Linked DNA regions of Homo sapiens: regions 1 and 2 are each linked to region 3. Evidence: fine-mapped expression QTL. A gene starts in region 3. Each other region holds a variant in brackets. All regions are shown on one strand. Distances are from middle to middle. Region 1 has its middle 9.9 kb from the start of EEF1E1-BLOC1S5. Region 2 overlaps BLOC1S5 (biogenesis of lysosomal organelles complex 1 subunit 5). Region 3 holds the start of BLOC1S5 (biogenesis of lysosomal organelles complex 1 subunit 5).

Region 1 (2,855 bases), 48 kb before region 3:
CGTCTCAAAAAAAAAAAAATTATGCTACATCTACTCTTGTATGGACATACTATGTTTATTCATTATCAGATGATGGACATTGAGTGGTGTTCACTTTTTGGCTGACCCTTATATTGCCCATAAAATAGAATTTGGGGGACTTCAGGCATCATCCAATCCAGAAGCTTCTAAATTTGTTTTTAGCAGTGGCACTGTTCTTTAAAATAAATGTTCTCATTGCTGAAATTGGGTAATCAGTAATAAGGGTTCATTATGTTATTATCCCTACTTGTGTGTATATTAATTTTCCATAGTATTTTTAAAAGATTACATTGAAATTTAATATGTAAAGCAGATTGAATGTATGTAGTTTAAAACTGCAAAGTATTCTTCCAATATTTTGCATACTTGCAACGAATCATTTCCAAAGAATCTTGGCAGATGATCTCCAATTTCTTAAATACTTGCAATGACAAAGAGTACTCTAACTTTGAGGCAGTCACAGTTGGATAGCTCTGTCTGTGAGAAAATAATGTTTATATTGATCCAAAATATGCGCCTTATAACTTCGAGTGGGAATCAGACAATTCCTCCACCATGAAAGTATTTTTATCTTCTTTATTTTTATTTTATCTAGTGCCTTTTCAAAGAATGCCAAATAGCTGGCAGAGTTTGGTATTCTGTATCACACTAACATATGCTACACAGTCTGCTTGAGAGATGTTAAGGGCTACGTTCCCATCTTCTGGGTTAAAAAGATATGAGCAAAATATTTAAGCAAAATTAAGATACCTGCAGGCAAAATCTGACGAAGTGTTGCACATTGTGCTACATAATAGACTGAGATTTTTTTTTAATATCATGGTTCTCCCCAGTTTCACCTGCCTGTCAGCTCTACATCATTTGTTATTAATTTAACACCAGAGAACCTGGGAAAAGCTGCAAGCCAGTGAGCATACACAAATCAGGCACAGAGATGGCAAGTGCTCCTTGGAGATGCTTGTTCACAAACTTTAAGGGAATTTGAAAAATGCCCACCAATTTGCAGGATGCTTGATATGAAATCAAAGAAAGTAGAGAAACGCAAGTTACAACTGCCTGATTTGACTGCAGAAACTGACAGTAAGACAGGAGCAGCTAGGTCATCTGCAGAATTCCACGCAGCACTGTAGGAACACACCTC[T/C]CTCCTCCTGACTCCCTTGGCATCTTCCTCCTTAATAACAAGGGACCTATTCCCAGCATCAGCTGATTCTAAGACACACACATCTATGTGCATCTCAGCAGGATGAATTGGAGGAGGAAGGGCATCTAGTTTGCAGACTCATTTTTACAGCAGTACCCCTTCACTGAAAATTACTTTGGGCCGGCTGAGAGTGGTGGCTCATGCCTGTAATCCCACACTTTGGGAGCCTGAAGGGGGTTTGGGGGGGGCTGGATCACCTGAGGTCAGGAGTTCGAGATCAGCCTGGACAACATGGTGAAACCCCGTCTCTACTAAAAATGCAAAAATTAGCTGGGTGTGGTGGCATGGCCCTGTAATCCCAGCTACTCGGGAGGCTGAGGTGGAAGAATTGCTTGAACTTGGGAGGCAGAGGCTGCACTGAGCCGAGACTGTGACACTGCACTCCAGCCTGGGCCACAGAGTAAGACCCTGTCCCCAAAAAATAAAAAAATAAAAAAAGAACTACTTTGGACCCTACAGTGAAAATTTATATAAAGCATGTTTGTGCCCAGTTAGCCAAAGCCCAGTTTCAGATGAGTAGTCTTCATCCCAATGTTCAAATGCCATTTTAATCTCAAAAAAAGCCTGAAAGCAAAATTTTTCAATGTGAAAAAGACCCTCATCTACTAAAGTTCCTCATAAAAGTCCATCTACTTTCATCAGTATATGTATTATATATGCTAGTGCATTTATATAAGACAAATAATGTTGACCATATATATCCACATTCGCTGAAAGCCAAGGATTAAACTTAAAAATTGGCACTGATCATAATGTTGCAGCAACTGACTAAATGCTCACCAGACCACTTCCCTCTTCTTCCCATATCCATCAGGTTTCCTGCAGGAAACAGAATCTAACTCTGATGTTTCAAGAGGCTCTAAAGAAAGGACTAGATATAGAAGCATGGAAAGGATTAAGAAAATCAATCCGGGAAGTTGAGGTGCCCAGGGACTAGCGAGAATAGAAAGCCATTACCACTTCTAGGTTACCAACTGCTCTCAGATAACACAGCCTGTTTTCTGGTCATTCCACCAATAGGGTACAGACTTCCTCCCAATCAATAGATCAGATATGGAGACTAATGACCCTCCTTCATGCACCAAGAGGGTAAGAAAGAAAGTCTATTACTAACACACAGAGCACTTCTGGGGAAGGGCAGGTGCAAGCTGTCATGAAGCTGTGGGGTTCAAACATCAAGAGGTCAGGAGCTTGGGGTGGGGAGTTCCTTACATGAAGTCCCAGATGTATGATGGTGGGCAGGGCAAGGGTGGATGGAGGCCTAAATGCTGTGAACAGTCAAACATCACAAACGGAGTCAGACTCTACTGCACAGCCAAATGCAGGAAGGGAGAAAGGCAATAAATACTCCAAACTCATGCTCTCCAATCTCTTAACTGTGCCTCTCACACTGAACCTATCTGGAAGCCAGAAGGTAGGAGACTCTGGGTAATGTCATCCACAGACTCAGTCTTCTGTGTCAAAGAGCAGGGCCAAGGAGAATGGGAATAAAACTGGGGCACAGGTGCAGAATAACAAGCAGACTGACGGATCAGATCACTTCACTCAGCCTCCCTTTAGCCAGGTGTGTCTTCCTGACTGAGTTTCAGCCAATGAGATCTGGACAGAAATGATGTGCAACATTTTCAGACCT
Region 2 (2,500 bases), 46 kb after region 3:
TACTGAGAATATCAGATTTTATATTATGGTGAATATGGTGATGTCATTAGGGAATGAGAAAGAGAGACACTGTGCTATGTTTCTGTACCAACTGCCCTCAGATACTGTGTGTTTTAAGTTTTTGTATCTGCCTCCTCTTTTGCTATAAGGCTGATGCCTGTTATTCTTCCCTTATTATCAGCCTTTTCATTTTCTAACTTGTGACTTTTTCATAGGGTGTCGTCTTAGAAACCAGTTAACTAAGCTGGTTAGAATTGTATGTAATGTAGGTCAAGTAGGCTCGGAATCAGAAGGGCTTTTCATGTGCAGTATTTGTAAATGGACTTTGTAGCATCTTCTTCGTTTGCATGACTTAAAGGTCTTAGCACATTCTCAACTAAGGTTCAGATAAATGTTATTTCCAGGTAGCTGGGTTTTATTTGTATGTAAAGACTGCAGTATTGTCAATACATGAATGTATAGGCGCCCCCCCCCCCTTTTTTCTTTACTGATTGTTGTAAAGAATGTAAGAATGGGCCGGGCGCCGGTGGCTCATGCCTGTAATCCCAGCACTTTGGGAGGCGGAGGTGGGCGGATCACCTGAGGTCAGGAGTTCAAGACCAGCCTGGCCAGTGTGGTGAAACCTTGTCTTTACTAAAAATACAAAAATTGTCCAGGTGTGGTGGTGGTTGCCTGTAATCCCAGCTACTTGAGAGGCTGAGGCATGAGAATTGCTTGAACCCGGGAGGCAGAGGTTGCAGTGAGCTAAGATTGTGCCATTGCACTCCAGCCTGGGCAACAGGAGGGAAACTCCATCTCAAAAAAAAAAAAAAAAGTAAGAATGCCTAGCAGTTACTATTACAAGTGGGAAACTAGGAAACGATAGCGTGGAGTGACTGTAAGAACTTCTTGATAAGGGAGCAAAACTAGATTTTTATTTGGATTTGGAAGTTGTCATCTTTTAGCTTATTTTCACTCGGCCTACAAGGCCAATAAGCGATATGCCTGATGTGAACAGGCTACTTGAATATGTTTGTCTTTATTCATAATATTCTGAAACTACACAATAGAAATACTGATCTTTGGCAGTATCTTATTCACTAATATATTGCAGCGTCTTAAAGACTGTTCTTGTAGCCA[A/G]ATGGTTAATAATGGTTACATCCAGGATTAAATTGAATCTAGGAATGGAGGGGAAAGTCTCTTGCTCTTGAGTTGTCTCTATTGTTTGAATTATTACAATAATCTGTTGCTAAAAGTAAATTATTAAAATTAAAGAACAGAAACTGAAATGGCAAGGGGATAAAAGTGGAGTGATCTGCCTTCTAGATGCTTCGCTTGTGATTTGTATAATATTTACCTTTTATTAAGTTCCTCAGGCACTGAGCTAGGAACTTGACATGTTCTACCTGTAGTCTTTATAAATATTATTTATGGATGCGGAGTATTTATTTTCCTCATTTTAAAGTTAAAGAAACTTTAAGTTGCTCAGCATCATGCAACTAGTGACAGGTAGACCAGAATTTGAAGCGAGGTTGGTATGCCTGCCAAAGCTCCGTTTTTCTTTATTGGGCTGTACTGGATAAAATGCGTTCTGGTTGGGAAGGGGAACACGGGCTGTTGCCTGGTGATCCACATCACAAGGTCAGCTGAGCCAATGATGACTTTCCATTTACAAAGAAATGAACAAATTAAATAACATCTGAGTATGCATGTTTAACATTCTCTGTATTTATTAAAACACAACTAAAGCTAAATATCATTTTGATGAAGTTTATCTGCATTTTTTCTTTTTCTAGTCTGACTGTGGCTTTTCTCTTAGACTGTAACAGTTTTTGCAAAAGTTCCATCAGAAGATTTAATAAACTCTTCATGCATCTTTTGGAGAGTTCTAATCTATAAGGCTGAAAAGTTAAAAAGTAACGCATTGGATTTTGTTTAACCTGTTTAACCAATTTATTGGATGAGTAAACTCCTCCCTAATCCTCTCTCCCTACCACTGTAATATCTGTTCAGATCCCAAGTGTCCGTAGGACATATTTTAGAGCAAAGTTTGACTGACATTTTAGAAGAATGTTCGACCAAGAATTTTCAATTGGAAAGAAGTTGACGTGAGTCTGAAGTTGAACAGTCTTGGTGCTGGGGAGCTTCAGATCAGCCTAGCAAAAAGACTCTCAGAAGACCGTTTGTCTTGTGAAAGGGATTTTTAGCTACCTACGTAAAACTTCCTCTGGAAAGATCTGATTTGCACTCTGTGATAGAAAAGGCGTAGGTTTGGGTGTCAGAAAGACCTAAATTTGAATCTACAACCAAGCTATTAGGTGAGTGACCATGGAGGATAAAAGTGTCCTTAAGCCTTAATTTCTTTGTCTGTAAAATGAGAATAATGTCGTCTTAAAGGAGAGGCTTTTAGAAGTAGCTATGCAAAACAACTAGCAGAAGTTTGCATTTCATGGGTACTTAGAGCACATTGGCTTATTCAGCCCTTCATCCTGTTTGTCATCCTGACCCAAATGAGAGAGAA
Region 3 (2,806 bases):
CACCCACCACCTATGCTTAAACACATACACAGAGACACAGAGGCAGTTGTTTCTGCCACATACAAGTCAGGCAGTCATTTAACCTCTCTGTGCCTCAGCCTCCTCGTCTGTAAATGAGGACATTAATAATAACTACTTCAAAGGCCGGCCATGAGGATTAAATGAATGCAAATTTGTAGACCACTTACAGTATTACCTGGCATGTAGCAAGTGCCATGTAAGTGTTTGTTAAACTGCAGTGCTATCCGAAGTTAGCACAGACTTCAGAGGTCAAAGCATGGTCCTCCTCAAGACTCCCCTTCAGACACCTGCCACAAGCTTTGGGGTTCCCAGGCCACCTGCACTTCTGACCAGCTGTCTCTGTCATATGCCCAGGGCCTGAGCACTGTCTGCTAGGGTGCCTCAGTTCTCACCCACGCAGCTTCTCTCTACACATGATGTTTCATTGCTATTCGCTTTACTCCCTCAGGTTTCACAGAATGACTCATAGAACTCAAGAAAGTGCTTTCCTTGCTATTACAGTTTTATTATAAAGGACACATATCAGGACCAGCCAAATGAAGAGATGTATAGGGCGAGATGTGGGAGATTTCCCAAATAGAAGCTTACGTGTCCTCAGGAACGCTTCCCCCTCCTGACACTTTGATGAATGATTATCGACCAGTAAGCTCACCTGAGCTTCCACATCCAGAGTACTCACTGGGGTTCCATTATGTAGGCATAGTTGGTTAAATCACTGGCCACATGGCTGAACTCAGTCTCCAGCCCCAATCTGCTCCCCAGAGGTGGGCCTGCTTATGTGACTCAAAGCCTAAGCCCTCATGGTTGGCCGGCCCTTCTGGTGTGGCCAGCCTCCATTCTGAAATCATCTTGGGCCCTCCATGAGCCATCTCATTAGCATAAACTCAGGTGTATTTCCAGAGGCCCACCATGAATAACAAAGACACTTCTATCACTTGGGAAATTCTAAGGATTGAGGGTACCTCCCAGGAACCAGAGTCAAAGTCCAGTCAAATTCTTTATTATACAACGTGAGTTTACTGACTTGAACAGAAAGAGGGAGCAAGAGAAGCATTCTAGGAAACAGGTGTCTAAAAAGAAAGGCAGGAATAGTCAGCCACACTCATGGCATAGTAGGGAAACAGCCCCCAGCTAATTGGCTTTGCTATACAGTAGTCCCCCCTTATCTGAGGTTTCACTTTCTGTGGTTTCATTACCCGCAGGACGGTACAATAAGATATTTTGGGAGAGAGACTACATTCACATAACTTTTATTAAATTGTTCTAATTGTTCATCTCTTACTGTGCCTAATTTATAAACTTTATCATATGTATATACAGGAAAAAACATAGTATATACATGGTTCAGTACTATATGCAGTTTCAGGAATCTACTGGGGGTCTTGGAATGTATTCTCAGCAGATATGGGAGGACAACTGTACTGGAATGCACCAGCTTTGAGCCAAATAACCAGGGCTCTGAGTTTAGCTCCAAAGTTCAAGCACCTTCCTATTCTAGCAGCATCCGCCCTGATCCAGCATGGCGGCAAGAGCTTCTGCCAGTTCACAGCCTGACTACACGGCAGGCGCCTTTCCGGAACCGCCCGCTGGGTAGATTAAATTTCTCCGGCGCCCTGTAATGACACACACACAAAAAAAACCCGGGCGCGCCTTGTAAGAGGGCGGCCGGGTTTGCGCAGGCGCAGCGTGGCCGCGGGTGGGCGGAACTGGTCGGGATGAGTGGCGGAGGGACAGAGACCCCTGTGGGTTGTGAGGCCGCCCCGGGCGGTGGCAGCAAGAAGAGGGACTCCCTGGGGACTGCGGGCTCAGCGCACCTCATTATCAAGGGTACGGAGTGTCAGGGCTATAGTTCCTGGTGGATCCCAGCACAGCCTCATCTCCCAGGCGGCGCCCTCTGACCCGGGCCGACCCCCGGGTCCCGGGCTGGCGCGCGTGCGTTTGTGCGGGTGGGGGAGTCGTGGTCGGTCCCCGCCTTTTTCCCCGCGCCAAATGCGTCCCACCACAACCAACCAGCCCAACTCTTCGTGTTTCCCCGCTTTCCTCTGTCGCAGCCTGAGCCATCAGGCCCGCCCCCGTCCATTCCGCAAGCTCAGGACCCCTGGGCGCAGAGCCTTTGGGCAGCCTCGCCACCGACGTGTAGTGGAAAGGGCATTGGACCTGGGAGGCGGGAGGCAGTCGCTTAGGAGTTGAGTGACTTCGGGTCACTGGCTTTACTCACTCTCCTACCCGATCTGTTCCTGGTCGTGCGAGGAGTAAGTGAGATACACTTACGAAGGCGCTCTATAGCACTGTAAAGAACCATTCACGTTCAGAAATGTCCATGTGTTCTGTGTGCTTTGAGCTGGGAGAAGGTTACAACCTAGATTCTCACAGAATCTGCTTTAGGTTTGACTCCTAAAGCTCACAACGCTGTTTGCTGCGTGAAAGTCTTTGACAGTTGAGTTGTAGTGCTTTATATATACCAGATATAAAGTGCTTATATACAGTGCTTGTATTATTTTTTCTACTTGACATGCTTAAGAAGATATGTACTAATAAAATTCATTAAAATAGAGAATTGAAACCTGCCCATCGTATGTCTGCAAAAATGAAAAATTTGGGGAACATTGCCAGTGAATGAATATGAATAATACATTGTCTTAGATTTAATTTCTCAAGGAATTTTGAGACTTACATTTTAAACTACATAGTTGTAACTAAGAAGAATAATAAACTGACTCACCAAAAGACTTAAATTCAGACCTTTTCTTAATGACTTTTTCAGACTTATGAAAAAGAGACTTAC

What was found. PIP is the estimated chance that this variant, and not a neighbour inherited with it, causes the effect.
Region 1: its variant is fine-mapped to the expression of BLOC1S5 in whole blood (INTERVAL, PIP above 0.99).
Region 2: its variant is fine-mapped to the expression of BLOC1S5 in whole blood (GTEx, PIP above 0.99).

The regions. Positions count from the first base shown.
Region 1 is chr6:8,111,045-8,113,899 of GRCh38, reverse strand. No RefSeq gene overlaps it. Among named protein-coding and RNA genes, the nearest start is that of EEF1E1-BLOC1S5, 9.9 kb to the right of the region's middle. The variant T/C (reference allele first, on the strand shown) is at 1,163.
Region 2 is chr6:8,017,584-8,020,083 of GRCh38, reverse strand. All of the region lies in intron 4 of BLOC1S5 (biogenesis of lysosomal organelles complex 1 subunit 5), which reads left to right. All of the region lies in intron 4 of BLOC1S5-TXNDC5 (BLOC1S5-TXNDC5 readthrough (NMD candidate)), which reads left to right. The region is part of intron 6 of EEF1E1-BLOC1S5 (EEF1E1-BLOC1S5 readthrough (NMD candidate)); the gene reads left to right. Among named protein-coding and RNA genes, the nearest start is that of BLOC1S5, 46 kb to the left of the region's middle. The variant A/G (reference allele first, on the strand shown) is at 1,120.
Region 3 is chr6:8,063,307-8,066,112 of GRCh38, reverse strand. It overlaps BLOC1S5 (biogenesis of lysosomal organelles complex 1 subunit 5), which reads left to right and starts at 1,724. Exons shown (of 5, transcript NM_201280.3): 1 at 1,724-1,848. The coding sequence starts at 1,737. It overlaps BLOC1S5-TXNDC5 (BLOC1S5-TXNDC5 readthrough (NMD candidate)), which reads left to right and starts at 1,699. Exons shown (of 13, transcript NR_037616.1): 1 at 1,699-1,848. The region is part of intron 3 of EEF1E1-BLOC1S5 (EEF1E1-BLOC1S5 readthrough (NMD candidate)); the gene reads left to right. RefSeq lists enhancers at 141-290, 301-400, 2,091-2,280, 1,890-2,516.